7 linked regions of the Homo sapiens genome follow. The protein of the gene in region 1 purifies or fractionates together with the protein of each later gene. This does not show direct contact. Each region holds a gene or a part of one and is shown in the gene's direction. Other genes may lie near its edges.

The links.
Region 2: the proteins of SLC22A9 (region 1) and SACM1L purify together in Homo sapiens (affinity purification with mass spectrometry; 3 studies listed by BioGRID and IntAct, with this or other methods). This does not show direct contact.
Region 3: the proteins of SLC22A9 (region 1) and ALG10 purify together in Homo sapiens (affinity purification with mass spectrometry; 3 studies listed by BioGRID and IntAct, with this or other methods). This does not show direct contact.
Region 4: the proteins of SLC22A9 (region 1) and LMBR1 purify together in Homo sapiens (affinity purification with mass spectrometry; 3 studies listed by BioGRID and IntAct, with this or other methods). This does not show direct contact.
Region 5: the proteins of SLC22A9 (region 1) and TMEM67 purify together in Homo sapiens (affinity purification with mass spectrometry; 3 studies listed by BioGRID and IntAct, with this or other methods). This does not show direct contact.
Region 6: the proteins of SLC22A9 (region 1) and GHITM purify together in Homo sapiens (affinity purification with mass spectrometry; 3 studies listed by BioGRID and IntAct, with this or other methods). This does not show direct contact.
Region 7: the proteins of SLC22A9 (region 1) and SLC16A10 purify together in Homo sapiens (affinity purification with mass spectrometry; 2 studies listed by BioGRID and IntAct, with this or other methods). This does not show direct contact.

Annotation. Positions count from the first base shown.
Region 1 is NC_000011.10:63,400,094-63,404,791, forward strand, and holds part of SLC22A9 (organic anion transporter 7), read left to right. Parts: intron 1-4,698. UniProt on the Homo sapiens protein: Sodium-independent organic anion transporter, exhibits high specificity for sulfated conjugates of xenobiotics and steroid hormones such as estrone 3-sulfate (E1S) and dehydroepiandrosterone sulfate (DHEAS).
Region 2 is NC_000003.12:45,743,173-45,746,627, forward strand, and holds the end of SACM1L (phosphatidylinositol-3-phosphatase SAC1), read left to right. Parts: intron 1-360; coding exon 361-497; coding exon of another isoform or gene 498-563; 3' UTR 564-2,237; downstream 2,238-3,455.
Region 3 is NC_000012.12:34,024,740-34,029,244, forward strand, and holds the end of ALG10 (dol-P-Glc:Glc(2)Man(9)GlcNAc(2)-PP-Dol alpha-1,2-glucosyltransferase), read left to right. Parts: intron 1-1,123; coding exon 1,124-2,176; 3' UTR 2,177-3,563; downstream 3,564-4,505. UniProt on the Homo sapiens protein: Dol-P-Glc:Glc(2)Man(9)GlcNAc(2)-PP-Dol alpha-1,2-glucosyltransferase that operates in the biosynthetic pathway of dolichol-linked oligosaccharides, the glycan precursors employed in protein asparagine (N)-glycosylation.
Region 4 is NC_000007.14:156,725,079-156,729,776, reverse strand, and holds part of LMBR1 (limb region 1 protein homolog), read left to right. Parts: intron 1-1,056; coding exon 1,057-1,133; intron 1,134-1,769; coding exon 1,770-1,847; intron 1,848-3,939; coding exon 3,940-4,013; intron 4,014-4,251; coding exon 4,252-4,342; intron 4,343-4,698. UniProt on the Homo sapiens protein: Putative membrane receptor.
Region 5 is NC_000008.11:93,777,696-93,782,393, forward strand, and holds part of TMEM67 (meckelin isoform 1 precursor), read left to right. Parts: intron 1-2,897; coding exon 2,898-3,052; intron 3,053-3,178; coding exon 3,179-3,287; intron 3,288-3,962; coding exon 3,963-4,049; intron 4,050-4,698. UniProt on the Homo sapiens protein: Required for ciliary structure and function. Part of the tectonic-like complex which is required for tissue-specific ciliogenesis and may regulate ciliary membrane composition.
Region 6 is NC_000010.11:84,142,508-84,147,205, forward strand, and holds part of GHITM (growth hormone-inducible transmembrane protein), read left to right. Parts: intron 1-147; coding exon 148-247; intron 248-1,487; coding exon 1,488-1,599; intron 1,600-2,367; coding exon 2,368-2,509; intron 2,510-4,698. UniProt on the Homo sapiens protein: Plays an important role in maintenance of mitochondrial morphology and in mediating either calcium or potassium/proton antiport. Mediates proton-dependent calcium efflux from mitochondrion.
Region 7 is NC_000006.12:111,089,997-111,094,694, forward strand, and holds part of SLC16A10 (monocarboxylate transporter 10), read left to right. Parts: intron 1-4,698. UniProt on the Homo sapiens protein: Sodium- and proton-independent thyroid hormones and aromatic acids transporter.

The DNA of each region.
Region 1 (4,698 bases):
AATAGCCTAGGATGTACCTTAAAGAAGTAGAAATGCAACAACAAATGAAACCCAAAATTAGCAGCAGGAAAGAAATAATAAAGATCAGAGCAAGAAATAAACGAAATTGATACAAAAAATACAAGTCAAAAGTTGTTTTGTGAAAAATAAACAACATCAACAAGGCTTTATGCAAACTAAGAAAAAAATAGAGAAAACAAAAATAAATCAAATTGAAGATAAAAAAGAGATATTACAACTGACATCACAGAAATCCAATGGATCATTAGAGACTATTATGAGCAACTTTATGCCAATAAATTGAAAACCCTAGAAGAGGTGGATAAATTTTTTTGACACATAGAATATTGATTGAACCAAGTTGACACATTAAGAAATACAAACCATGAACAGAGCAATAACCAGCAGCAAGACACCAGCAGTAATAAAAAGTCCTCCATCAAAGAACAATCTAGAACCTGATAGCTTCAGAACAACTGAATTCTACCAAACATTTAAAGAACTCATACCTATTGTACACAAACTATTTGAGAAAATAAAGGAGGTGGGAATACTTCCAAACTCATTTCACAAGGCCAGCATTACCCTGATGCCAAAACCAGAAACGAACACACACAAAAAAGAAAACATCACTGATGAACATAGATGTAAAAATTCTCAACAAAATAGTAGCAAACAAAATTTTAAAACACATTAAAGAGATCATTCATCACGACCAAGTGTGATTCATCCCAAGGATGCAAGAATGGTTCTGCATAGGCAAGTCAATAAACATAAAACATAACATTAGTAGGATCAAGGACAAAAATATATAATCATTTCAACAGACGCCAAAAGCATATGATAAAATTCGAATTCTCTCTTTATGATAAAAGCTCTCAACAAACTGAGCATAAAAGGAAAATACCTCAAAACAATAAGATCATATGTAACAAACCCACAGCTAACACCATAGAGAATGGGGAAAAAAATGAAAGCTCTTCTTCTAAGATCATGTAGAAGACAAGTATGCCCACTTTCACCACTTTTACTCAATACAGTAGTGGACGTCCTACCCAGAGCAACTAGGCAAGAGAAAAAAATAAAAGGAATCCATATTGGAAAGGAAGAAATCAAAATGTCCTCATTTGCATATGATATAATTTTATATTTACAAAAACCCAAAGACCCTCTCAAAAATCTATCTGAATAAACAAAAAATTCAGTAAAGTCGCAGGATACAAAATCAACATAAAACATAATTACCATAACTATATTTCAATAAACAGCAATCTGAAAAGGAAATTAAGAAAGCAATCTCATTTGCAATTCGTTACAAAAAGTAAAATACCTAGTAATAAACTACACCAAAGAACTGAAAGATTTCTACAATGAAAACAATAAGCTGATACAAAAAATAGAAAGACATCCCATGTGCATGGATTAGAAGAACCAATATTGTTAAAATGTCCCTATTACCCAAGGCAATCTACAGATTCAATGCAATCTCTATCAAAATACCAATGACATTCTTCACAGAATTTTTTTTAGTCCTAAAAGTTACACAAAATCAAAAAAGACCCATAAAGCGAAAGAAATCCTAAGCAAAAAGAACAAAGCTGGAGTGGCTGAGCTAATTTGCATTCCCACCCGCAGTCTACTAGTGTTCCCTTTTCTCCACAACCTCACCAGCATGTTGATTTTTGACTTTTTAATAACAGCCATTCTGACTGGTGTAAGATGCTATCTCATTATTGCTTTCATTTGTATTTCTCAAATGATTAGTGATGTTATAAGTTTTTTTATATGCTTGTTGGCCATGTGTATGTCTTCTCTGGAGAACTGTCAGTTCATGTCCTTTGCCCATTTTTAATGGGTTTGTTTGTTTGTTTGTTTTATTGTTGCTTTATTTGAGTCCCACATAGAGTCCAAACATTAGACCTTTGTCAAATGCATAACCTGCAAATATTTTTTCCCATTCTATAGGTTGTCTGTTTACTCTGGTGTTAGCTTCCTTTGCTGTTCAGAAGCTCCTTGGTTTAATTAGTTCCTGCTTTTCAATTTTTGGTTTTGTTGCAATTGCTTTTTGGAGTCTTTATCATAAAATCTTTGCCAGGGCTGATGTTCAGCGTGGTATTTCCTCTTTTCTTCTGTGTTTTTAACACTTTTACATCTTACATTCAAGCCTTTCATCCATCTTGGGTTGAATTTTGTATATGGTCAAAGGAAGGGGTCTAGTTTCAAAATTTTGCATATTGCTAGCCAGTTATCCAAGCACTATCTATTGAATAGGGAGTCTTTCCCCATTGCTTGCTTTTGTCAGCTTTGTCAAAGATCAGGCAGTTGTAGATATGTGGCTTTATTTCTGGGTTATCTAATGACTGTGTTGCATTGGTCTATGTATCTGCTCTTATGCCAGTATCATGCTGTTTTCATTACTGTAGCCTTGTTGTGTAGTTTGAAATCAGGTAGTGTGATGCCTCTCACTCTGTTCCTTTTGTTTAGGATTGATTTGGCTATTTGAGCTCCACTGTGACATTTACCCATGTAACAAACCTACATGTGTACCCCTAACCTAAAATGAAAGTTGAAAAAAAAAAAGGTTTTTAACTAAATGTAAAATTATGTTTTAAAAGATCACATAATTAGTAAATGGTACAATCAGAACTTGAACACTAATCTGACATTAAATCTTGCACTTCTAGCCATTATACCATATTACTTTCCTTTTACACTATACTGTCTTCACTCAATATGTAATTATTTTGGAAATTAAGGACACTAAAATTCCCATAAACACTAACATTTTTAGAATATTTGTATGTTTGCTCACCTTTCACCATTTTTTGAAGTTCACACATATACATGCTCATCAACTTTTGCTTCAGCTTCCCTGAAGGAAGATCTAAGGAGAAGAAAAACACTTTCCAAAATATATCAATACAAAAGATTGTTATAAAAAGTCAATGACATATAATTGACAATTGGATAAATGGACAGATTCTAAGAATTTCAGACTATTAAGTGAAATTAATATAGTCAGAAGACTAAAAACCAAATATATAAAAGTAAAAAAGAATTCCATATTAATCCATTTTCTGATTAAATTATCAAAGAAAAGAGAGAATTTTGAAAGCAGCAAGATAAAGTGACTGACTTGTTACATACTAAGAGAATGTCCTCCATAAGACGATTGGGGGATGGCAGATTTCTGCAGAAACCTTGTAGGCCAACAGAGAGTGGGATGATATGTTCAGAGAGATGAAAAAATAAAAGGCTAACAAAAATTACTGTATCTTGCATACCATCCCTCAATAATGAAAAGAAATACTTTCCCACACAAACAAAAGTTGAGTGAGTCTGTCAGCACCCCACCTCCATTATTATTATTTCCAAAGGGAAACCTTGAACTTTAAAAAATGGCACTAAAGAGCAGCATGAGAGCATATGAACATATAAAGCTCACTGATAAATGACTAATGTGAAAAGTCCAGTATTAATATTATACTCAACAATAAAAAACTGAAAACTCTTCCTTTAAGATCAAGAACAAGATAAGGATTCTACTCTCACCACTTCTATTCAATATAGTCCTTGAAATTCTAACAAGAGCAATTAGGGAAGAAAAAGAGATAAAAAGGTAAGAAAAGGAGATAAAATATGAAGTGTTTTATGGAGGATTAAACACGTAAAAAATGAAATAGCATCCTATACCTATTAGGATTATCATTATCAAAAATAAATAAATAAATCAATCAATCAATCAATAAATAAACAAGAAATAATAAGTGTTCAAAGGATATGGAGAAATTGGAACCCTTGTATATTGTTGGTGGCCATATAAAATGCTACACTCACCATGAAGACACTATGGAGGTTAGAACTACCATATGATTCTGTATTTTCAGTTATGGGATCTCAATTCTTCAGAAAAGAATTGAAATCAGTATTTGGAAGAGATATTTGCACTCCCATATGTTCATTGCAGCATTATTCACAATTGCCAAGATATGGAAGCAACTTAACTATTCATTTACATATGAATGAATAAGCAAAATATGTTATATACCTATAATGGAATATTAGCCTCAAAAAAGAAAGAAAAAGGTCATACCCAACATGTATGAACCTTGGGCTAGCACAGAAGAACAAACACTGTCTGATTTCACTTATATGAGATATCTAAAAAAAAGTCAACTCATAGAAGCAGAAAGTAGGATAGTGGTTTTCAGGGACAGCGGACAGAGGGGAATAGGGAGTTGTCATTTAAGGGCATAAAGTATCAGTTATGCAAGATGCAAATGTCTTGGAAATCTGCTGTACAACATTATGCTTACAGTAAATACTGTACTGTATCTAAAAATTTGTTAAGTAGGTAAATCTCTCAGCTTAAGGAGATTTTGGGCTGAGACGATGGGGTTTTCTAGGTAAATCTCATCTTATGTATTTTTATCACAATATTTTAAAAATGAATAAGTGTTTTGAGAGCCCCCAACTAAATTTGGATTTCAGTACCAGAGTGGTTAAAAACCCTGCCCTAAAAAGAAAATGAATGGGAGCTGGATGTAGGGGTTTACAGTGTTCACGCAATACTTTTCCTTCAGTGGATGGCCTGATGCCTAGTTGTTTGACCCTTGACCAGGGGAACCTTCACACAGGAAGCTTGTTTATACTGGCAGATGCCCTTGGGGCTCTTATCCGACCCATGTACAGTTTATG
Region 2 (3,455 bases), on another chromosome or scaffold:
TTAAAATATACTAAAAGTGATCATTATTATTTGTATAATATAATATGAAATCATTTAGTCCAGTGGTTCTCAAAGTGTAGCCTCTTGATCGGTAGCATCAGCATCACCTGGGTACTAGGAACTTGCTAGAATGCAGATTCCTGGGGCCCAACAGTTGATGCTTTATCAAGCCCTGCAGAAGATTCTGGTACTAGCCAGGGTTTGAGAACCACTGGTTTAAACCTTAATTAAGAGGTTCTTATATTTTTCCTGTGAATGTGCTAGTAAACTTTAATGTTGCCAAAATGTGCTAAACAGCTGAAAACTGGGTCTGATATCAACAAACGACTTATTTAGCTTTTTGTTTCTTAATATCAACAGGTGACACTTGGACAGAAACACTGGCCTATGTGCTCTTCTGGGGAGTTGCAAGCATTGGAACATTTTTTATCATTCTTTACAATGGCAAAGATTTTGTCGATGCTCCCAGACTGGTCCAGAAAGAAAAGATAGACTGAATTTGTATTTGTGGAAAGCGGCTTGGCTTGGAAGATTCCATTGTGCAGAACTGGAGTCTTTACTGACCCGCTTTCCACATCAGCCCAAGGTCTTTTTAATGCCTTTATCCAAAAGCACATCTTGTGCTCCATGCAGGATGATGACAGAATTGATCTGATGTTACTGCCTTGATGGTCTCTTTACTATTGGGACAGTTAGATTTATAATTTGAAGCTATTCTGTAATTAAAATATAACCTGAATTCAGCTTGCAGAATGGAAGCTGAATCTGTTCATTGTATTCTATTGATTGTCAATTTAATTAGCTGTTGCAGAATAAGTAATATATTTTAAAAACCTAGCTCCTTTCATTATTTAAAACAGCAAAATTATTTTTGTAGCTCAGTTTCATTATTGTCATTGTAGAAGCGGTCACTATTAGCAGGCATACTTTTCCACACATCTTTGGACTTTTCTTAAAAGTTCAGTAATAAGCTAACTGTGTTTATAAAATGTAAGTCTCTTACAGACATCAAGTAGTTTGATGAGACAGTCTGTGACTTCATGATAGGAAAGAGGAGGATGAGGTCTGGGGTTCTTTAAAGTCTCTGGTGGGCTGCCTCATGACTTTAATCAGCTTGAACTGCCAGTGCACCAGCAGTTTAGGTGTGATGAGAGAATTCAGATATACTTTATCTTTTTAAAAAAGTGTAAATAAAATCAAAGAATGTAAAGTCTATCTCTTACGCTAGAGGTCCAAAGCTGCCTCTGTTTTAAAGATTATCCCAATGTGGAAGATGCCCATGACTGGTCAGCTACTTCCTCCTATACATTTTGGTTTCTTTGAGGGTCACTCATTGAGACACGCAGGCCTCTGAGAGGGTCTTGTTCTAGATTTCATATTGCACTTGGAGGGTAACAGCTGCTTTTTCACGCATGGTACTCTTGATGTTTTTCACTCTGTCAAGGATTTTGTTGGCTATCAATGAATGTGTCTAAAACTTAGTGCTTCCAGGTAGTTATAGTACTCCAAATCAAGGACCAACTTAAACGTTAATTTTTGTGCAAAAACAAACCTGAAAAATATGCTTCGGAAACTGTGCATAGTTCTAATTGTAAGTCAGATTGTATATTCAAATTGTAATTAAGAGATTTAAATATTAGAACGGTATGTAAGGTAGTATAATTACCACTATTTTAAATAATTCAGTTAAACACTGCTGCAATATTTCAGTGTTGTGCTTGAAAATATGTACAGTTTTTTTCCAATATTAATACCTTATGTTGTCCTTAAATATTTCTAAAAGCGCCTTTATTTCAGCATTACCTTTTTTTCATCACTATCTTTTATAAAACATTAATATAAGTCGTTACTTTTAGAAACTAAAGGAAATAATAGCTGGAAAACCCTCTGTAGTTTAAAATCAGTCATTAAACTCACAATAGGGTAAGTAAATATAGCCACCTGTTAACATGTAAATAAGCATAATTTGTTCCAAAGATGGAATATTGAAACTTAGTTCATGTCTGCTGTAAAATATTATTTAAATGCTGCTGGGCATTTCACTTAAAGAACTTAATGTCAACAGCTACAACAAAGACCAAATCTGAACTGCTAATGTGGCTGCTTTGTAGGGAATGGACTAATATCAGTGTGTTAGATCTTAAGGTATCAGTATTTCAGAATCCTGCGACGATTTTATTTCTAAATTCATGTACTGTATGTCCATAAGTGAAAATAAAATGTCATATTCTTTTCTATTATTGGTATCATTCATGTACTTTGAAAGTGATGTTTTTCTTTTTGATCTTAGAATGCTAAAAATCATGCAAAATGATAGACGGTTTGGCTCTGTGTCCCCACCCACCCAAATCTCATCTCAAATTGTAATCCCTACGTGTTGAGGGAGGTACCTGGTGGGAGGTGGTTGGATCATGGGGGATGGTTTCCCCCATGCTGTTTTCATGAGTTTGCACGAGGTCTGATGGTTTAAAAGTGTTTGGCATTTACCCCCTTGCTCGCTCACTTTCCTGCCACCGTGTTAAGATGTGCTTTGCTTTCCCTTCACCTTCTGCCATGATGAAGTTTTGTGAGGCCTCCCCAGCCATGCGGAACTGTGAGTCAAACCTCTTTTCTTTATATGTTACCCAGTCTCAGGTAGTTCTTTACAGCAGTGTGAAGACAAATTAATACACAAAGCAATGCATGATCATCATAGAAAAATTAGAGTAAGCAAGAAAATCAGTAGCTTCTGCAATTTTGCTTTCCAGTTATGATCACTTAAGAAATTTTGTATCTCCTTATAGTTTTTATTTTTAGTTATAGAGAAACCCAGGGAAATATTTAGTAAAGTGTAATGTCCATAAAAAGGTGTCCCCCACCTTCAAATTGTAATTTGTTTTTCAAAATGTTATGAATCCCAGCTGATGTGGGAAAATATTGCTTATTAGAAAATGACACCTCCACAGGAAGGTGTCAGCATGAGGGAAATAGTGATGGAAACACATTGGTACCTAGTGATGGCAGCAGTGGGCCGTCTGGAGTGGCTGCTGCCATTGTGCCGGCCGTAGCAGGGAGGTGTGAGTGGTGGCTGCAGGAGCAGCCGTGGTGATGGTGAGACCCCTGTGCCCCACGTTCCCTGTGCCCCGTGTCCCTGTGGCAGCCGACTGCGCCGCCCCCACCCCTGTGTGGCCGAGTGGGGCCTGCCTCCAGGCCTGGAGCCACCACTGCTCTGGACCCTGGTCCGCGTTACCACCACTGTTGCTTGCTGTTGCCAGGAGGGCGGAGAGTCCCTGGAGCCTGCTGCAGGGATACCCCTGGAGCCTGTCTCCCGGGGGGCCGCCGCAATGTGGCCAGGTTGAGTTGCCTGCCGGCGGGGGAGCAGCGTGATTGTGCATGGAGGACCAGGCAGAGAAGGGCCACAGGCGGAGCTGGGCCCGGGGTGGTGCCATGCTTGCACATGGAGCACGGGGGCCGCG
Region 3 (4,505 bases), on another chromosome or scaffold:
ATATAGTAAGGGTTCAGTAAATATTAACTCTAATAATTATTTTTAACCTTAAGAGATGATTTCAGTAGTGTCAGTTATGATAGAGTGGTAAACATAAGATGCTATGAGGATACAGAGAAGGAGCAGGGGAACACTTACTGCTTTTCTGGGAGGGAGGGGAGTATGTGGCATTTGGTAAGTCCTCACAGAGAAGATGGTACCAGAGCTGAGTCTTGATGAACGGATAGGGCTGTGTAGGGTGGGGAATTAATCCTGGGGAGACAAACAACATAAGAAAAGGAAGAAAGGCATTGAACAACGAGTTGCAGGGAATTGGTCTTGGAATTACAGGATTAAAAAGTAGAGGGATGTAAGGCTAGAGAAGTAGGTCATGAATGCCCTTATGTGTCACAGAGAGGACTTTGAACTTTAGCATGTAATGTAAAGACCTTAATTTTAATCAAGGAAATGGCATGGTCTGATTTGGTGATTTAGATTAAGTGGAGTATACAATTCAAGAACATAAGAACACTTTCAAATTCTGAAACAGCATGTCAGAAAGGCCAAAAGAAGATATATAACTTTAGACAGGCTCACTTTTCAGAAAAATACCTGTTATTTCATCATGAAAATTTCATCTTGAAAAAGTAAGTCTGGGTATGGTAGTATACCATATGCATGTTTATATTCTCCCTTGTGTAGAGTTATGAAGGATTTCCTTAAAGGAAAGTGGTTCATTATGGCTAAGTGAATCCTTACTGAAGGCACTAAAACATAAGCTCAGGGAAATGGAGCCAGCACCGTGTCCTATTTATCTCCATAGTCCACATAGAACTTAGTTAGTATCTTGCACTCAATAACTCCTTAACTAATCATTGCCTGATTCCAATTGTGTTAAGCTATAGAAGATTTGGCATACACATGGTCTCCAAACTGATAGGTATACATAAAAAGTACCAGGAAGTGTTCTTATAAATGTATATTGTGTTTTTGCAAAGCCAGAGATAAGATTAATATTGATTAATTTTATTTAAAGAAGGTTTGAGTAGTTGAGTAGTTTTTAAATAAATTTCTTCATTAGGTAAGCAGAAATAGCATTTTTTGTCATGAAAATAATTTTATCTGTGTTTCTTCTTCCTCCAAGGCTGCCTCAAGTATCCAGAGAGTCTTGTCAACATTAACACTAGCAGTATTTCCAACACTTTATTTTTTTAACTTCCTTTATTATACAGAAGCAGGATCTATGTTTTTTACTCTTTTTGCGTATTTGATGTGTCTTTATGGAAATCATAAAACTTCAGCCTTCCTTGGATTTTGTGGCTTCATGTTTCGGCAAACAAATATCATCTGGGCTGTCTTCTGTGCAGGAAATGTCATTGCACAAAAGTTAACGGAGGCTTGGAAAACTGAGCTACAAAAGAAGGAAGACAGACTTCCACCTATTAAAGGACCATTTGCAGAATTCAGAAAAATTCTTCAGTTTCTTTTGGCTTATTCCATGTCCTTTAAAAACTTGAGTATGCTTTTGCTTCTGACTTGGCCCTACATCCTTCTGGGATTTCTGTTTTGTGCTTTTGTAGTAGTTAATGGTGGAATTGTTATTGGCGATCGGAGTAGTCATGAAGCCTGTCTTCATTTTCCTCAACTATTCTACTTTTTTTCATTTACTCTCTTTTTTTCCTTTCCTCATCTCCTGTCTCCTAGCAAAATTAAGACTTTTCTTTCCTTAGTTTGGAAACGTAGAATTCTGTTTTTTGTGGTTACCTTAGTCTCTGTGTTTTTAGTTTGGAAATTCACTTATGCTCATAAATACTTGCTAGCAGACAATAGACATTATACTTTCTATGTGTGGAAAAGAGTTTTTCAAAGATATGAAACTGTAAAATATTTGTTAGTTCCAGCCTATATATTTGCTGGTTGGAGTATAGCTGACTCATTGAAATCAAAGTCAATTTTTTGGAATTTAATGTTTTTCATATGCTTGTTCACTGTTATAGTTCCTCAGAAACTGCTGGAATTTCGTTACTTCATTTTACCTTATGTCATTTATAGGCTTAACATACCTCTGCCTCCCACATCCAGACTCATTTGTGAACTGAGCTGCTATGCAGTTGTTAATTTCATAACTTTTTTCATCTTTCTGAACAAGACTTTTCAGTGGCCAAATAGTCAGGACATTCAAAGGTTTATGTGGTAATATCAGTGATATTTCGAACTGTGAAAATGGACTTAATAATTAGACCATTTCTACAAAGAACAACTGAATAGGTGGAAAACATGGAATTTCTTTTAGGTGCAGTGGTGGTCTTCAAATTACATTAGTTTTTTTTATATATATTTTAAACATATGTAAGAAATTAAGTGGCAAAGAACTGAGAAAGCTTAAGACCTGCTTCAAAAGCCTGAAAAATGGAAAAATAAAATTGTTTTCAGATATCTCATATCACTCTCATAATGTTGGCCCCTTAAAAAGCTTGGGAATGTTTTGTATGTACAAGTTTATTAAAACTGGGTATGCTTCATATTACTGGAATGAATTTATTCTCTTCAGAGAGAAATATTAGGTTAGTGCAAAAGTAATTGTGGTTTTTGCCATTGAAAGTAATGGCAAAACCACAATTACTTTTTTACCAACCTAATAACAATGTATTAGCAAATATTTACAAATGGTCAGGTGATATTCTTGATTGAAAAGTTGCTTAACATTTCAGTAATATAATTTTAATTCTAAGTCAAAATACAAATGCATAGATAGTAAATGATAAAGTAGAGACTCATATATGCCTGTCTAGACATCAAATTGTTGGTTATTGTTTACAATCTAGAAATGATGAAGCTCTTTCACTAATTCCTAATATGAAATGTATGATGGCCAAAGACAAATTGTATTGATTATAATCCTTTAAAAGGGGGATTTCCTTTCTGAAATACATATTGTATTAGCTTCCCAGGGCTTCCATAACAAATGACGACAAACTTGGGTGCTTACAACAATTTTCCTCACAGTCTGGAGGCCAGAAGTCTAAAATCAAAGTGTCAGCAGAGTTGGTTCCTTCTGGAGGCTCTAAGGAAGAATCCATAAACAGACATTCTATGTCTGTTTCCTAATATCTTGTGGCTGTGTGCAATTCTTGGAGTTCTTTGGCTTCTGGACAAATCTTGTCCAAGTATTGCAGACAGCAATCTTCACTCCAGTCTCTGCCTCTGTGTTCACACGGCCTTTCCCTCTGTCTTCTCTTCATTACCTTTTAAGGACAGTGTCTTTGAATGTAGGGCCCACCCTGATCTAGGGTGATTGTGTCTGGAGACCCTTAATTATGTTTACAAAGACCCATGTTCCAAGTAAGTTTGTATTCACATGATCTGAGTAGACATTGTCTCTTCGTGGGATACTTTTCAGTCCATGACAGTTACTAAAGGACATTTTAGGATAGTCTTCATATGATTGTTAGGAGACTACCTTTTTAGATTTTTTTTATTATATATCAAATTATAGTTGTATATACTTATGAGAAACAAAGTGGCATTATGATTTTTGAATATAATGTGGGATTAAATAAAGCTAATCTATCCATCACCTCAAATATTTGACATATTTTGTGATGAAAACATTTGAAATTTACTCTCAGCAGTATTGAAATGTACAGTGCTTAATTATTAGCTGTATTCACCATGTTGTGTAATAGATCTAAAAAAAGTCAAACATGCTCCTTCTATCTAATTGAGGCTTTGTATCTTTTGATTATCATCTCCCCATTCCCACATCCCCGGCCTCTAGCAACCATCATTCTTCTCTCTACTTCTGTGAGTTTAATTGTTTTAGATTACACAAATAAGTGAGATCATGTGGTATTTGTCTTTCTGTGCTTGGCTTATTTCACTTACCATAATGTCCTCCAGGTTCATCCATATTGTTGCAAATGACACAATTTCTACCTTTTTAAAGGCCAAATAGTATTTTATTGTGTATATATGCCACATTTTCTTTATCCATGCATCCATTGATGGACATTTAGGTTGATTGAATAACTTGATAATTGTGACTTGTCTGCAGTGAACGTGGAGTGCAGACTTCTCTTTGACATACGGATTTCAAGTCTTCTGGATAAATGCCCAGAAGTGGGATTGTTGGATCAGGAGATAATATCTTAGCCGATACCTTTTAAATAACTCTCAGTATCTTTACTGAGAGGTTAAAAAGTAAGTGACTTCTGAGGTAATATAAAGCTAAAGGTGACTAGTGTTTGATTCCATTATCTATTTAAAAAAATGTCAGAATTGAAAGTTAAGAAATCATTTGGTCTGACCTTATTTTGTAGATTAGGGAACAACTGCTGGGGTAGGATTATTTTGTGTTACTTTTTGAATTTTGTGTTTATTATTTTGAGTGTATTTTTTGGGTTGTCATTCCATTATAGGAAAGTATTATTTGGGCATGTTAAATTTGACATGTAAACTTAGAATTATGAATAGAACACTTCTTTTAACATAATTTTATGTTTCCAAACTTTAAAAGTAGCTATAAG
Region 4 (4,698 bases), on another chromosome or scaffold:
AGGGGGCTGGGCGCAGTGGCTCACGCCTGTAATCCCAGCCCTTTGGGAGGCCGAGGTGGGTGGATCACGAGGTCAGGAGATCGGGACCATCCTGGCTAACATGGTGAAACCCTGTCTCTACTAAAAATACAAAAAATTAGCCGGGCTTGGTGGCATGTGCCTGTAGTCCCAGCTACTTGGGAGGCTGAGGCAGGAGAATCACTTGAACCCGGCAGGCAGACGTTGCAGTGAGCCGAGATTGTGCCACTGCACTCCAGCCTGGGAGACAGAGCGAGACTCCATCTCAAAAAAAAAAAAAAAAGAATAGAAGGGATTTTTATTCATATAACTTTATTCATTCAGATATATATATATATATCAATATGTAGATCTATATGAAATACAAATATAGCCCTCAGTATTCGTGGGGGACTGGTTTCAGAACCCCCATGGGTACCAAAATCCACATATGGTAGAAAATTATTGCAGAACCTGTGGCTATAGAAGGCCTACTGTATGTCTGTATTTTCAGAGTCAGCTGTATATCAACAATATATTTCCTTAATGATTGAGATGTCTTCACAGAGCTGAAATTTACGCATCACAGGATTGAGGTGTTTAATGTAGCAAACTGGTTTTAAAACTCTGATTTTTGTCTGGGTATCGTAGTTCGTGCCTGTAATCTCACCATGTTAGGAAGCTGAGCGGGGAGGATCGTTTGAGCCCAGGAGTTCAAGACCAGCCTGGGCAACATAGCAAGAACCTGTCTCCACAAAAAATAAATAAAAAAATTAGCCAGGCATGGTGGCATGTATCTGTAGTCCCAGCTACTTGGGTGGTTGAGATGGGAGGATCACTTGAGCCTAGGAGGTTGCAGTGAGCTGCGGCTATACCATTGTGCTCTAGCCTGGGTGACAGAGCAAGGCCCTATCTGTAGTTTTTTTAGTTTATGGAGGAAAATTAAAAGTAATTTATGTTTTTTAAAAAGAAATTATGTATAAAACAGATTATAGCATTATGGAAGGAAAATGTTAATTTGGAGAAAACTTTGTTTTATTTTGTTTTTCCTTTTAATAGAGAGGCGAAAAAAGGCTTCAGCATGGGAAAGAAATTTGGTGTATCCCGCTGTTATGGTTCTCCTTCTTATTGAGACAGTAAGAATTTATTTGCCTAGTTAAATAAAAGCAAATTATATTTTATTTACTTCAGCATTTGAGTATGGCAGCTCCCTCAGCTAAATGGTTTTTCATAAACTAGTTTTCTATCAACAGGATTAAAATCCATCTATGCCTTTATTTATGAAAATCCAATAAAGCAAAAATGGAAATTAATGGCAATTTAAAAAAAATTCTGAAGATTATCTGTTTCTTCATGAAAGCAGGAAATTCAGTCTTTGTTTTCATTGAAAATTAAGAAAACAAGGTGTTGCAGATAACCTGCTTTAAATTCTGTGATAAAATATGAAAATTACATTATGAAGTTAGTTCTGATAATATTTTACCACTTTTTTAAGTCTGTGGAGTTGTGTGTTTCCAATTGGTGAGATCACTTAGTAAAAGGATCTATATACTACCAGCTTTTGTCACAAGCTTTGAAATGACAATAACTTGCAGAATCTTTTAGAATTTCTTCAGTTCTTGTTTGTAGTCTGATTACTTTAGTTTTATATATAGCGTTTTGGTCTTGACTGCTTTCCCTCTATTCTGAAACGTGTATTTGGTTACCTAGATTTTAATATTTTGTATTGGTGAAAAATCTTGAGAGCTGACAGTTTGCTGTTTGTCTTGTAGTCCATCTCGGTCCTCTTGGTGGCTTGTAATATTCTTTGCCTATTGGTTGATGAAACAGCAATGCCAAAAGGAACAAGGGTAAAGTAAAATCCTTTAAAATGTCTTTCTTTTGCAAAAGTATTCTATGTCTATACCCTGAGTATTTCAAGTAAGCAAATGAAAACATTCACCTTTGTGCATGTATATACTTCAAGTTGTATGAATTTCTTTATGCAAAGAGCCTTTAAAATATAAACTGTGATTTTTGTTTCTAATTTTTTACTTTGGATTGACAGGGCCTTTTTTCAAGTGTTGGAATTTCCTTTTAGATTTCTTATCAGAGTTTATCTTGATTTTACTGAAATTCATTTAGCTATATGAAATTCCTTTAGCCATAGTCTTGATTCAGATCCCCCCACCTGAGTCTTTCCAGGACCTTGTGCCATCTGTTATTGCCATTGTTGTATTCACTTACAGCCTCTTCTCCATGAGTACAAGCCCACCATCATGCTCCAGGTGCCTCATCCTACAGACAGACAAGAAACTACCCTTTGCCATGTACAGTCTTATCTTTTTCTTTAGTTTTATACCCAAACCCACTGATAGAACAGGAAGTCGCTTACTATACTGACTTCCTAGTCACTTTTAACCCATTTTACTATACCAACAAAACAAGTCCCAAGCCCTATAGTATATTTTTGTACCCATCCCCCTTAGTGCTTAGTGGAGAATGACTTGTACGTCATAGGAGATCCCTGTATAATTGTGTAAAAAAATTAGATACTCTTAATCCTTCCTACATGGCTTCTCTTGAGATAGCATAATTCCAAAGTATTATCTCTGTTGATCAATAAGCTTCTGTAGGGGAGAAGAAGTAATACCTTTTTCTAACCTATTGGAAGGTTCATGGCTGAGATGCCTATAACAAAAGATTAATAAGAGAAAAGCTGACAAACTTATTTAAGATAAGTTTTACATATCACAGGGGTCTTCAGAAATAAAGAAGACCAAAGAAACAGAAAAAGCTGTGTACTTTTATGCTCTGGTTTGTTGAAGAGTGGACAGTAGTGGGAAGTATGATTGGAAGACAGGGGTGTGATCTAATGATTATAAACCGGGGGGATTTAGCAAGGCCTGTTCATATTCTTCTCGGTGTCCTCGTGTCTCCGGAGATAAACATGTGCTTCTCCTCTGGGTGGGTTGCGGGGGGCACCCTTGGATGGGGGTCTTATGGCCTGCTTCGCAGGAGAAGGAGACAGATCAGTGTGTGACCTTCCTAGGTTTTCTCAAATACCAGGTCCCAAATTTTGGAGTAGTGTGTCTTGAACCCCATCACTTTCTACCAGCATCATTTATTTCTTCTTCAAAAGATTGTCAAAAAGTTATTTTTTATTGGGCTGACTGTAGATTCTTAATTATCCCTGGTGTTTCTATTAGATGTAATCTGTGCTGACTAGTAAAACATTCAGATAGTTTCTTTTATTAGTAATCTTTGAAAATACTTCAGTAGGGAATGATTTTTTCAGATCTAATTATAAAAATAGTAACTTTTTTGTGTTTTTTTTTTAAGTTCTAGGTAAAGATAGTTTTTGAGATAGGGATAATTGTTTAGGAAAAAATTTATAGCATTACTTTTTTAAAAATCTATGTTAACAGTTACATCCTTTGTAACTCTGAATTCCCAAGGAAAATTTGGGCAAAGGAAACTTTCAGGTATGGGAACAGGATATGCACATTTACTCTCTTTCTACTCTTAGCTTAATTTTGACATACTTGAATTGTGTAATCTTTGTATATTGTGTAAGCATTCAGATAGCTATGTATCCTATTCTTATTTTTCTATTGTGTTTTTAAAAACTCTTTCCCAAAACTATTCAGGATTTTTTTCCTCAAGTGGCAAGTTGCCCCATTTTATAACAGTAAGCATAATCATGTCATCTTGACAAGTAACTTAAATTACATTTGAGATAAGTAATTTTTCTTGAGCTTATTAAAATTGTTAACATGGTGCCTGAATTTGTTGATGAAATCAGTCTAATGTCATGTCTTGTTGGCCTTTGAAAGTCTAGATGTTATTTCAAAGTAGTAAACATTCATAATTTCAACTGTCTTATTTTATGAAACAGCTGTTTTAGGGAAACCAATATAATGGTGTCATCAAATTCTGAAAAGTGTCTTTCTCCCACCCCAGGGGCCTGGAATAGGAAATGCCTCTCTTTCTACGTTTGGTTTTGTGGGAGCTGCGCTTGAAATCATTTTGATTTTGTATCCTTTCTTTAACTGAACGTTCAGCCTATCCACAAATTTTATACCAAGTTTTCTGGGGCAGTAGTTATTTACTAAGACACTTGTCTAGAAGAGAAAACAACAGGTTAGTCTTCCTCAAGCACTTAAAGCGGCTTTTTGTTTTGCTTTTCCTATGGGCCTTAAGACTTTTTGGAGACTGCCGAGAACTTAGGAAACTTGCATTCTGTTGGAGAGTTTTTTTCCTTGATTCTCACAGCTATCTTATGGTGTCCTCTGTTGTCGGCTTCTATAGCCTTCGATTTTTTGGAAACTTTACTCCCAAGAAAGATGACACAACTATGACAAAGGTAAGGTAGAATCTTAGGTGACTGTGGCCTCTCGTTTGCCTTCCCTGACAGACTGCTTTATTTAATAGTCATTCTGAATGGTTCATTTGCAGTGATAGGTATTTGTTTGTAAGTTGCGTAAACACAAACTGGAAGATTTTCAAAATGCTGAGTGAGTGGGAAAGGGATGTACCCTGTTTAATTTGGATGGCGTCCATTCACTGTAAATGCGGAGAACTGCAGAGCTTGTTAACTAGCTATAGAAGGCTCCTGAAAGGACTCTTTTTCCTCTAAAGAAAACGTATTGCTAATGAGTAACTTGGATTGTGCTAACTGTACTTCAGGGAGCTTGTTTGAAGTCTGAAGAACTTAGTTGC
Region 5 (4,698 bases), on another chromosome or scaffold:
GATTGCACTGTGGTCTGAGAGACAGTTTGTTGTCATTTCTGTTCTTTTACATTTGCTGAGGAGTGCTTTATTTCCAAGTATGTGGTCAATTTGGGAATAAGTGCGAGGTGGTGCTGAGAAGAATGTATATTCTGTTGATTTGGGGTGGAGAGTTCTGTAGGTGTCTATTAGGTCCATTTGGTGCAGAGCTGAGTTCAAGTCCTGGATATTCTTGTTAACCTTCTGTCTTGTTGATCTGCCTAATAGTGACAGTGGGGTGTTAAAGTCTCCCATTATTATTGTGTGGGAGTCTAAGTCTCTTTGTAGGTCTCTAAGGACTTGCTTTATGAATCTGGGTGCTCCTGTATTGGGTGCATATATATTTAGGATAGTTAGCTCTTCTTGTTGAATTGATCCCTTTACCATTATGTAATGCCCTTCTTTGTCTCTTTTGATCTTTGTTGGTTTAAAGTCTATTTTATCAGAGACTAGGATTGCAATGCCTGCTTTCTTTTGCTTTCCATTTGCTTGGTATATCTTCCTCCATCCCTTTATTTTGAGCCTATGTGTGTCTTTGCACGTGAGATGGGTCTCCTGAATACAGCACATTGATGGGTCTTTACTCTTTATCCAATTTGCCAGTCTGTGTCTTTTAATTGGAGCATTTAGCCCATTTACGTTTAAGGTGTAATATTGGTATGTGTGAATTTGATCCTGTCATTATGATGTTAGCTGGTCATTTTGCCCATTAGTTGATGCAGTTTCTTCCTAGCATTGATGATCTTTACAATTTGGCATGTTTTTGCAGTGGCTGGTACTGGTTGTTCCTTCCCATGTTTAGTGCTTCCTTCAGGAGCTTATGTAAGGCAGGCCTGGTGGTGTCAAAATCTCTCAACCTTTGCTTGTCTGTAAAGGATTTTATTTCTCCTTCACTTATGAAGCTTAGTTTGGCTGGATATGAAATTCTGGCTTGAAAATTCTTTTCTTTAAGAATGTTGAATATTGGCCCCCACTCTCTTCTGGCTGTAGAGTTCCTGCCAAGAAATCTGCTGTTAGTCTGATGGGCTTCCCTTTGTGGGTAACCCAACCTTTCTCTCTGGCTGCCCTGAATATTTTTTCCTTCAGTTTAACCTTGGTGAATCTGACAATTATGTGTCTTGGGGTTCCTCTTCTCAAGGAGTATCTTTGTTTTGTTCTCTGTATTTCCTGAATTTGAATGTTGGCCTGCCTTGCTAGGTTGGGGAAGTTCTCCTGGATAATATCCTGAAGAGTGTCTTCCAACTTGGTTCCATTTTCCCCATCACTTTCAGGTACACCAATCAAACATAGATTTGGTCTTTTCACATAGTCCCATATTTCTTGGAGGCTTTGCTCATTTCTTTTTAGTCTTTTTTCTCTAACCTTGTCGTCTCGCTTTATTTCATTAATTTGATCTTCAATTACTGATACCCTTTCTTCCACTTGACCAAATCGGCTACTGAAGCTTGTGCATGCATCACATAGTTCTTGTGCCATGTCTTTTAGCTCCATCAGGTCATTTAAGGTCTTCTCTACACTGTTTATTCTAGTTAGCCATTTGTCTAATCTTTTTTCAAGGTTTTTAGCTTCCTTCCGACGGGTTCGAACATCCTCCTTTAGCTCAGAGAAGTTTGTTATTACCGACCTTCTGAAGCGTACTTCTGTCAGTTTGTCAAAGTCATTCTCCATCCAGCTTTGTTCTGTTGCTGGTGAGGAGCTGCATTCCTTTGGAAGAGAGGAGGCACTCTGGTTTTTAGAATTTTCAGCTTTTCTGCTCTGGTTTCTCCCCATCTTTATGGTTTTACCTACCTTTGGTCTTTGATGTTGGTGACCTACAGATGGGGTTTTGATGTGGATGGGGTTTTGATGTGGATGTCCTTTTTGTTGATGTTGATGCTATTCCTTTCTATTTGTTAGTTTTCCTTCTAACAGGTCCCTCAGCTGCAGGTCTGTTGGAGTTTGCTAGAGGTCCACTCCAGACGCTGTTTTCCTGGATATTACCAGCGGAGGTTGTAGAACAGCAAATATTGCTGCCTGATCCTTCCTCTGGAAGCTTCGTCCCAGAGGGGCGCCCACCTGTATGAGGTGTCTGTCGGCCCCTACTGGGAGGTGTCTCCCAGTTAGGCTACACAGGGTCAGGGATCCACTTGAGGAGGCAGTCTATCCATTCTCTGAGCTCAAACGCTGTGCTGGGAGAACCACTGCTCTCTTCAGAGCTGTCAGACAGGGATGTTTAACTCTGCAGAAGTTTCTGGTGCCTTTTGTTCAGCTATGCCCTGCTGCCAGAGGTGGAGTCAACAGAGGCAGCAGGCCTTGCTGAACTGCGGTGGGCTCCACCCAGTTGGAGCTTCCCCGGCTGCTTTGTTTTCCTACTCAAGCCTCAGCAATGGCAGACACCCCTCCCCCTGCCAGCCTGCTGCCTGGCAGGTTGATCTCAGCTGTGCTAGCAGTGAGCAAGGCTCTGTAGGCGTGGGACCCACCGAGCCAGGCGTGGGATGTAATCTGGTGTGCCGTTTGCTAAGACCATTGGAAAAGCGCAGTGTTTAGGTGGAGGTGTCCCATTTTTCCAGGTACAGTCTGTCACGGCTTCCCTTGGCTAGGAAAGGGAAATCCCCCAACCCCTTGCGCTTCCTGGGTGAGGTGATGCCCCACCCTGCTTCAGCTTGCCCTCCATGGGCTGCACCCACTGTCCAACCAGTCCCAATGAGATGAACCAGGTATCTCAGTTGGAAATGCAGAAATCACCTGCCTTCTGCGTTGATTATGCTGGGAGCTGCAGACCGGAGCTGTTCCTACTCGGCCATCTTGGAACAGACCTGCACAAAGTAAAATTTTTATATCAACTTTTGCATAGACTGTTCAGGTTCATGTTACTTTTCTTTGCCATTGTTCTGTTGTAGGTATATGCCAATCTAACATCTTGTCAAGCTCTTGGAAATATGTGTGTGATGAACATGAATTCTTACGACTTTGCCACATTTGATGCATGTGGACTATTTCAGTTTATCTTTGAAAATACTGCTGGACTGAGCACTGTTCATTCTATTTCATTTTGGTAAGGATATTTTGATTGATGAAATGTTATTTTGACTGAATTCAGTGCAGTTATTAATATATTCACAAATACTAATAATAAGAAATATTTATTCTCCATTATTAAAACAGTTGTAACTGTTTATAGGAGACAGAATCTTCCTTGGCTGTTTTATGGAGACCAGTTAGGATTAGCACCTCAAGTGCTCAGTTCTACCTCTCTTCCTACAAATTTCAGTTTTAAAGGAGAAAACCAGGTAAAAGTGTCTAATATCATTAGAGGATAACTACATTTTGATTTATAATTTTAAAAGGTAATAAAGTTACAATTCTTGCCTTTTTAGGTTGTTGGTACAAACTCAGTTACTAAACTAAATATAAATGTCAACAACTCATAAGAACTAAATAGTATAGAGTTTAGCTATCTTACTGAATATGTGGATACTTCTGGATTGTGTGGTTATGGCAAGAAGTTGTACTTGTAGGGTTGGGAAGAGCAGTTTTCATCACCAAATGCAAAAAATCTCTGTCCTGTTTTTTCCACACCTTAAAGAAGTGCTTCCAAAGATTGATTGGGGCTCTGTGACATTGCTCAGCACTTCACAGGGCCAAATTCCTACCTGTAACTTTTTGACCTTCCAGAATGAGGAGATACTATTCTCCCACACTGCCTCCTATTTAACAGGTTCAAAAGGAGGCTATCTGTCACTAGTGCTGCCTCTCAATTCTAGAATAATAATTTTCATGCAAAAAACCAGTCTAATTCTTTCAGGTCTATTTAGTCATAGAAATAGATTAATTGAACCTCAAAATAAAGATAATTGAATGTAATTTTTCAACAAAAAAGATCAGTCAACAATGAAAATTTCTTTATAGGATATTGTATTACTTTCAGAGTATTTGACCTGATTTTGCTCGTTTTCTTTAATCAGAATACAAAACTGAAGTTTGTTGCTGCTTCCTATGATATAAGAGGAAATTTTCTCAAGTGGCAAACTTTAGAAGGAGGTGTTTTACAGGTAAGCATGATTCTAGTTAAAGAATTAATAACATGCATTATTTTTGCCTGAGACAAAGCCAAGAGGAAAAGATTATTGTATGAATAAAGCATCAGTTACATACTACAGTTGATTTTTTTTCTGATGCTTTAAATTAGACTTTCTTAAGTTTTTTGTTTGTTTGTTTGTTTGTTTGTTTTTTCTTTTTTTTTTGAGATGGAGTCTCGCTTTCTTAACCAGGCTGGAGTGCAGTGGCGCGATCTCAGCTCACTACAAGCTCCGCCTTGCGGGTTCACGCCATTCTCCTGCTTCAGCTGGGAGCTGGAACTACAGGCGACTGCCACCACGTCCAGCTAATTTTTATGTACTTTTAGTAGAGACGGGATTTCACCATGTTAGCCAGGATGGTCTTGATCTCCTGACCTCGTGATCCGCCCTTCTTGGCCTCCCAAAGCGCTGGGATTGCAGGCATGAGCCACCATGCCTGGCTAAGTTTTATTTCTTTAAAGTTATGACTTTCATTTATAACAGATGTTCCCTTAACTTTTCATATCCTTGATACATTAAATAAGTATTATGTAGAGCATATATCCATGTTCGGGTTTGAGAACTCTTGAGTATAAGAATAGAAAACATTTGTGAGATTTATCTGTTGTATTATTTTGCTGCA
Region 6 (4,698 bases), on another chromosome or scaffold:
AATAAATTTCCATAGTGAAGTTAGGTATATAGAAAGTACCAAGTTTCTTTAACTAGAGTTTTCTAGTGTAAAGGGATCTTGCATTTTATTTTATTAACGTTCTGTTTTCATGTGGGTGGTACGTGTCTTTGTTTGCATGTGTGTCAGGAATATGCCACCAAAACAAGAATTGGGATCCGGCGTGGGAGAACTGGCCAAGAACTCAAAGAGGCAGCATTGGAACCATCGATGGAAAAAATATTTAAAAGTAGGTGGCTATCTTTAGTTTTTAACCTAGAATCTATGGATATGTTTTAAGAGGTCCATGAACAACTTCCTAAAAATATATGTGTATTTGTGCATTTTCTGGGAAGACCACATTATTATTCTGAGATCTGACGACCCAGAAAAGATTGGTACTTTGCACTGGATTCAGTGGTTATCAATCATATTTCTTCCAGTGGAAATTTTACTTTCCTTTTTTTTAAAGAAAAGGATTATTAATATGCCATGGTCCAAAAGGTATACTCTGTTGAGAAAGTTCATTTTAAGTGTGTAGAATCCTCATTCAAGCATATAATATTTGTGTATGTTTCAGATTAAGAATAAATCACCAACACATAGATGTTAATAAAAGCCTAGCTGTCCAAGAAGAATCCTTTAACTCACTGCTCACATAGGGCCTCAGGAGGGCAGTACTTTAATATATTGCCAGTTTGGTTCAGTTTGGATATCAACTTTGCAAGTTCAGAAACTAGATTGTTAATCATCCTAAAGCTATTCAAAGAATACCACTGCTCCTTAATAATCTTGCAAAATGTCTTTACAGTGGGAGAGAGCCCTAATCAGTATCCTTCAGGTCATTTCTTTCTGATTTGACCCTAGAGACCAAATCATGCAAATTATGTAGTGACAGCCTAGTAATATTCTTAGTAAACGAATTAGACTAAAAGAATAAGATGCCCTTTATGAATACCTCTATTGAGTTAGAGTTGATTAGTTGCCTCTCAGTACCCTAAAACGGGAGCCTCCTCTCACTTGATTCTGCTGCATAAACACTGATTATATTTTCTCTTTTTTCTTGATTTCCACGTAAAGCATCATTTGTGTTAATACCATGCAGTATGGTATGACTGTTAACATTTCCTTCTCATTTTTTACTTTCCATGAATGTCATGTGAATATACTTCAACCTCTTATTAGTAAAATAATAGGTATCACAGAAGTAGCTCCACGTCTACAGGTATACTGCTCCCTCAAATATTGTTGGAGGGAGGTTGAAGATTCACCAAGCCTGATCCTTTCTTTTTTGTACTGATTTTTACACCTTTGTTTCAGGAGTGTTTTTTTCTACTGGTTACCTAACATTGAGGCAATTTCTGTACCCCATATGCACTGATTATGGCTTCTATTAAATATGGTACATGATTTGATTCCCTTGATAAATATTTTAAAGGCTTTGTCCAGATGTGCCAGTACTAACCTGCATTTCCTTCTGTGTTCTGCAGTTGATCAGATGGGAAGATGGTTTGTTGCTGGAGGGGCTGCTGTTGGTCTTGGAGCATTGTGCTACTATGGCTTGGGACTGTCTAATGAGATTGGAGCTATTGAAAAGGCTGTGTAAGTAAATTGTTTTAAGTAAACTGTTCCTAAACAACTCCAGCCTTAAAACAAAAATTCAAATTTTCTTCTCATTCCTATCTTTAGTCACTTTGGAATGTTTTGTGTCTAGTCTTTGTGTATACACACAAATAGAGAATCTCTTTTTGCTTCTTTGACATTTATTTATTCAAATCTAAATAAAAATCTTTTAGCAAGGTTATATGTGTTTAAGCAAAGAGAAAATATGAAATATGTTTTTTGTTTGTTTGTTTGTTTGTTTTTTTGGAGAGAGAGTCTTGCTCTATCTCCCAGGCTGGGGTGCAGTGGCGCGATCTTGGCTCACTGCAACCTCCGCCTCCTGGGTTCAGGCAATTCTCCTGCCTCAGGCTCCTGTAGGTGGGATTACAGGCACATGCCACCATGCCCGGCTATTTTTTGTATTTTTAGTAGAGACGGGGTTTCACCATTTTGGCCAGGCTGGTCTCGATCTCCTGACCTCAGGTGATCCACCCACCTCAGCCTCCCAAAGTGCTGGGATTACAGGCATGAGCCACCGCACCCAGCCAAAAATATGTTGTTTTTTATATGTGCTTGTATGTTTTATCTCATTTAGTCCTTACAGTAACTCCCAAGTATGCATAATTATCATAATTATTTCCATGATAAATGAAGTGAATAAGATTTAAAGTGTAAAATGATTTATCCCGAGGTCGCCCAGCTAGTGTGTGACTCAACCAGAAATCAAATCTGTAATTTCATAGATTAATCATGTCATGTTTCTTACAGAATTTGGCCTCAGTATGTCAAGGATAGAATTCATTCCACCTATATGTACTTAGCAGGGAGTATTGGTTTAACAGCTTTGTCTGCCATAGCAATCAGCAGAACGCCTGTTCTCATGAACTTCATGATGAGAGGCTCTTGGGTGGTAAGTCAGCTGTTTTTGTTTTCCTTTTTCATCTAAAGATCAAAAGATTAGATAAAATATATTGGAGGGAAGGGTTATTAAATGGAAAGAATACTGTATTGAACAAGTTTTTGTTCAAATAATGTATGAATTACAGGTTGAGCATCCCTAATTTAAAATCCAGAAATGCTCCAAAATCCAAAACATTTGTAGTGTCAACATGATGCTCAAAGAAAATTGTAGCATTTCACATGTTGGGTTTTTGAATTAGGGATCCTGAACCCTAACAACAATGAAGTGTAATGATAAATAGTCCGAAATCTGAAGTCTGAAACACTTCTGGTCCCAGACATTTCTGATGAGAGTTACTCAACCTGTATTAGTGCAGCTGAGATAAAAGTAGGAAGTTCATTCTAGGTAGGTCAGCTATTATTCTTTATTAAACATGTATTCGAATAATACCAGAGGAGTTAGAAATCAAACTTACAGAGACAACATTTTTGTCTAGCAGCAGATATCAGACAGCCTCTAATTTGTAGCAGTTTACTAAAAAAATAAAGCAAATGCAAAATCATCTTAGAAGTCAGAGGGAAATGCCTATGCAGTTAAGAGCAGAATAGTGCTGCTACTATTATTCCTAAGATTCTTGACCTTATAGAAGATTTTATATTTAATCGGTTTCTCTGGAGCCCTTGTTATTTTGCTAGATAAGAGAATTTGAATATGTGTCCCCTATTCTCCTGCTATTTGGTAGAAGAGATGAACTGGAATAAGTGGCACAGATACGCAATAAGAAAGTGCAAAGTCAGTTGAGAGTTTCTGTCTTGGACTGTTAGGCAAGTTCCGTGAAGGAGACATTTATTTCATCAGGGTTGTTGAAGGCTAACATGTCTCATTTATTTTAGAAGTAGACAAGAGGGCCAGGTGCAGTGGCTCACACCTGTAATCTCAGCGTTTTAGGAGGCTGAGGCAGGAAGATTGCTTGAGCCCAGGAATTTGAGACCAACCTGAGCAACATAGTGAGACACTGTCTGTAATTTTTAAAGAAATAGAAAATTTTAAAAATTAAAAAAAAATTTTTTTAAGTAGACAAGGGCGGTCCAATTTTACCAAACAGTTTAAGGGAAGAGGAGGTAGGAAAACCTAATTTCAGAGGTGACTTACAATCCCATTAGAGGGAAATTCAAGTGTTTGAGGTCTGGAGGGTAAAGAAGACGTGGTTAGAAAGGATACAGTTGTCAAGCTGAGGAGAGAACCTAAGCAGTCGGAGGCCATTGGAGATACTGGAACAACAAAAGCGTGATTTATATTTGAGTTTTTAGAACCAATGTGGAAGAGACATGGAGCAGGTGTACCAGCTGTGCCTTTGTAAGATCTGAAATGAGGGATGATAAGAACCTGAACTAGAGCAGAGTGTGATACTGGAGGGGAAGGAGAGTTCATGTAACACTGATTCCCCACATAGGGACGAAAACCATATTATTTTCACTGTGTTGTACTTTACTAAAGGATAACCATTTACAGTAGCAGCCATTTGGATATTTATATATTCTTAGGATCATGCTTTTTCACATAGACGTCATGAATCTCCCAGCCCAGAGGTTCACAAAGGCACAGAATGTTTCACTGGGGATGTCAGTTTTAATCAGAAGCAAATAATTTAAAACAATACTTTTGTAATAAACATGACAATATTTACCTAAAATTTTAGGCCCTAAAATGAGGCTTCAAAGAAGTTTTGTGTTTGGGCCATATCCTCAGTCCCTTCTGGGCAAAAGATTACCCTCTTCCACTGTTAGTAATACAGAAAATAGGAAAGCCAAAGACAAGTGTTACAGAGATGAAGATGTAACCTTTTGGGTGTGACAGACATATATATACAAACACACACATAGACACACAGATAATGTCAAAGTTTGTCCCAAGTGCATCTGAGGAGAGGTATCTGATCTTGCTCTTGGGCAGCCAGGGTACCTACTAGAAAAAGCTTTTGAGATGAGACAGTACCAGAGTAAGTCGACCAGATATGGAAGGAGATATTCTTAGGCATGATGGATTGAATTAAGGAGGCCTGAAATTTTGGGGCATGTTGGCAGCTGTGCCAGTTCCGTATGGTTGGAATGCAGAGTTTGGAGTGAGACTGGATCATAGAAGATCTTAAAAAAATTTAATTGCTGCTGTCCACAGAGGATGTGTGAAATAGTTTGTAG
Region 7 (4,698 bases), on another chromosome or scaffold:
AGAATTTTGCAGTGTCAAAGTCTCTACCTACTACTTGTCCCCAAAGTTCTAATTGGCTACACAATATCCCAATACTGGGTAGCTGAGAGTGAGGGAAGGAACCTGGTTTTTCTTTTGCACTCTGTGGAACTTTGTGTTTTCCATTTTGATGAATATCTTTTTTCTTTTTACTCAGTTCAGTCTTTGACAACTTTTTCAGTCATGTTTGTGTATGTGTGGGTATATATCATATAAACAGTTGCACAGGTGTGCTAGTTAAATGTGTGAAGATCTTTGTGTTTCTCTGCCTGACTGCTGTATATCTATTTATGGTTGTGCCATTGCACAAGGGTGCCCAACTCAGGGGTAAGTGGGGACTGAAAACCAGCCTGGGCTCTGGGTGCCCTTTGTCTGATTCCTACAGAAGGGCCCTATGCACTTGTAATGGCCCTGTATAACACAGCATCTAGATTGAACAATGGCCATTACTTGGGTGCTAGGTAATACATATATGACTGATAGATGTTAAGGGCTGAGGAAGAAAACAGATTTAAACTTAGTGCTGAAAAAATGGTTACAAGATAGTCTTTAAGCCAGTTATTGTTGAGATCTCTCTCTCTTCCCCTGTCCCCTACCCCTTTCTCTTTCCTTCAGTGCACACACACACACACAAAGGTGTTTCATGAAGTCCCTCATCTACCACAGTCACTGTTATTTGAGAATATCTGCTTTGAAGTTTGATTGGTCACACTTTTTCACTTTGATATTCGAATGCTGAGTCGTCTGTGATCAAGCATATGCAAGCTTCAAATACATGCCAAAAAATATCTGGAATTTGTTTAAGCCTTTTATTTTTCAAAGTTTTGGTCTATTTTCTATTACCGTACTCATGATGGATAATCCTGGTGTTAGAGTACAGCTAGTTCTGTCTCCTTGTTTCCATTACTTCTTTATAGCAAGTGACTAGCCTAAGGATATACAGGGAGGTGGTGGTGGAATGGAATCTAGGTCTCCAAATGATGGTGCGCATTTCTTGAGTACTTTCCTGTGGCTAAGCACTTTAGATGCGTTCCTATTTAAACCTTACCACGATTCTCTGATAGACTTTGTTAATATCTTTCTTTTCAGATATGGGAACTCAGGCTTACAGAGTTTAAGTAAGAAGTGGAGCCAGAATTCAACCCCAGGCTTATCTGACTCTAAGAGCTGGGATTTTTATTTTAATTATTTATTTATTTAAAATATGGAATGCTTCATGAATTTGCATGTCATCCTTGTTCAGGGGTCACGCTAATCTTCTCTGTGTCATTCCAATTTTAGTAGATTGTTGTTCAAAGTGCTGCTGAAGCAAGCACCAGGAGCTGGGTTTTAATCATTCATCATATTGCATTGACTAGATAACATTCTGCAAATACGATGTTTTTTATGTTGTTGATTAATTTAAGTGTTAGTGATTGGTTGAGTGCTCTACCATGCATTCTGGGATTAGAAAGAAGGGTCCCTGTTTCTTGGTCCTACTTTGTGGTGAATAAACAATTGCAAATTATTAATGTCTCAAACTATATTTCTGAAGTGTAGAGAGACTTCCATAGAAGAACAAGATACTTCCATATGCCGTTCAAGCAAAAGTCTGGGGTTTCCTTTGAAGAACTTTTAGATTGATCCACAGCAGGACAATGTTTCTAGGCAGAACTGAGGAGGAGCCTTTCTTAGGCTCACTTCTCTTCAGGGCTCTGTTAACTCTTCCCACGCAATGGATAATCTACCCAAAATTTCTCAGGAAAGGGCCTGAAGAAGTTCATTCACACTAAGGTGTAAGTGAGTTTACACATCTTACTGTTAATTCTCTTTATACAAATGTTTACCAAGTTATCTAACACGCTTTGTTTTGGGCTCTGTCCTGGGGACTGGAGATAATGACTGAGAGAGAAAATGTCAGCTGTTTCAAAGTAGCTTAGGATCTGTTGTGGGATACAAATTAATAACAGACCAGAAGTAATAGAATATTTCCCTGAAGGATTTTCAATATAACAGGACTCAGTTTTACTATAAAAGGCTGAAATTCTAAGGTCATTTCAACAGGTGGTGGGGTTGGGGGTGGGGAAGGCATTTGACGCCTCTTTCTCTATGGTTATAAATCTCACTTGGTGAAATTAAGACTTTGGAAAGGGGAAGTAAGCCAACTCCAAGTTGGGCAGTAGAACCAATGAAAAATGCTGACGGCATCACAGTCCCATTATGGTGCCCAGCTGCCAATGACATGGCACTCAGAGGAGTGTCTCACACATACTGCTCTGTCTGAGGGAGCAAGCTAAGCTTGAGTTGTCTCTTTTTTTGTTGTTTTTTTTTTTTTTTTTTTTTTGAGACAGATTCTCACTCTGTCGCCCAGGCTGGAGTGCAGTGGCACCATCTCGGCTCACTGCAACCACTGCCTCCCGGATGCAAGCAATTCTGCCTCAGCCTTCCGAGTAGCTGGACTACCTGCGCTTGCCACCACACCTGGCTAATTTTTGTATTTTTAGTAGAGACAGGGTTTCACCATATTGGCCAGGCTGGTCTCAAACTCCTGACCTCGTGATCCACCTGCCTCGGCTTCCCAAAGTGCTGGGATTACAGGCATAAGCCACCGCGCCTGGCCAAGTTGTCTCTTTTTAGTTGAATTTTTACCTGTTCACATGTGTATTCTTCTTGCCTAGGTAGAGAGGAATCAGACACTCTGGGGAAGAATACAAAGAAATACAATTAAGTGGAACATTGTTTTTCTTTAGAAAGTGCAATTTTGGGCTGGGCGCAGTGGCTCATGCCTGTAATCCCAGCCCTTTGGGAGGCCAAGGCAGGTGGATCACCTGAGGTCAGGAGATTGAGACCAGCCTGGCCAAGATGGTGAAACCCCGTTTCTACTAAAAATACAAAAAATTAGCTGGGCATGGTGGCGGATGCGTGTAATCCCAGCTATTCGGGAGGCTGAGGCAGGAGAATTGCTTGAACCTGGGAGGCAGAGGTTGTAGTGAGCCAAGATGGCGCCACTGTACTCCAGCATGGGCAACAAGAGTGAAACTCCGTCTCAAAAAAAAAAAAAAGAAAAGAAAAAAAGAAAAAAGAAAGAGCAACTTTGTTTTAACTCTGCTAGATACTGGAAAACCCATGGAACTAATGAAGAGCCTAGGGCTTTTTATTTGTTTTGAGATTGTGCCATTTCACTCCAGCCTGGGCAACAAGAGAGAAACTTTGTCTCACACACAAAAAAAGTGTAAATCAAAACATTAAAAATTAAGTAGTTTGGAAGTAGATTATCAAAAAGGTCCTGAAAGGGAGGTTCTTTGGCTATAATCTTTAACGCAACTCTACACTCCCTGTATGGAGACAGATTTCTTTTTAGATGGTTACAGTCACAAAGTAGGGTTTTCAGTAGCATTTAGGGATGAATGAATCTTGCAGCACCTCTCCATGTATCTTGCTAGCCCCTCTGAAACTTCAGGTCAGTTAGTGCTTCCTCAGAAATTGTTCCCCCCACACCAAGTTTTCACATTTACAGTTATACTGATATCCACATTGTACTGTTGTATGTGACACCTAGATTATAGGAAATTTTGGCTATAGTTCAGAAATTAACTGCTATGTTTTGCCTTTACGCTAAAGAGATTTTGTTTTGTTTAGTAGGAAAAGCGGCCTGCATAACTAGCCATTTCTGTATCTTAGAAAAATTTTTAGTAACAGTCCTTTGTTGAGCTAGTTACAGTGAACAAATAATCTGGTTCATGGTCCTATACATCTTTCACTATAAGAAAAATACCTGATTGTTATTTACACTGGAAGAGAGGTAGAAAAGCTAAGAGAACTCACTTATGGCAATAAACCAATCTAAACTACCTGCTAAAATAAGTGAGAAGATTATAAAAATGGTTCTAGGATTTTGGAATAATAGTGAGTATGGTATGGGCGTTTCATACTTCATTTCCAGAATGTTTCTGGATTAAGTGCGAGACTGAATAGCATATATAGTGAATTCTAATTAAATACAACAATGTGAGATTCCTGTGGTGTTTTTTCATGGAATTAAAAATTAATAATTTCAATAAAATTAACTGCTGAAAGAACCCAATTAGCCAAAATGAAAAGCATAACACATTTTTTCAGGAGCGATTTTGAGGTGTCTTTTAGAATAAATTGTACTCTGCTTTTGATGTGATTTGCTACATCTTTTTGTTGCAGTTCCTTGAGGCTCAGCCCCTGGCCATATACTTGCTTCACTTTTCCTGCTTTCTTCCATCCACTGTCTTGGGGCTGTTATTTCCAAATCTCATCACTGTGTTCAAGACTTATTTACTATTTCTGGACAGTTCCATTTGGGTACACAGGTACATCATACTAAACTAACATGAACTCATTTTTCAGCTACACCATACAACCTTCCCTTACTACCAAAAATGACAGCCCATTTGTCGGCATTCTTCTGAATCCATATTCCTCCTTCTTAATTCTCTGTGCATGATACCTCTGGTTGTTTAAGTCAGAAACCTGGAATGTATCTTAGCTTCTTATTTCTCTTCCTTCCTTACCTGTTTTGTTAAATCAGAGTTCTTTTGTGTTTACCTTCTTAATGCCTCATAAATCAGTCCCACTTTTCTTTCACTACTGTGTCTTAATTCATGCCTTCATTTACTTTTTATTTTATTTTTTGGGATAGGGCCTCACTGTGTTCCCCAGGCTGGAGTGCAG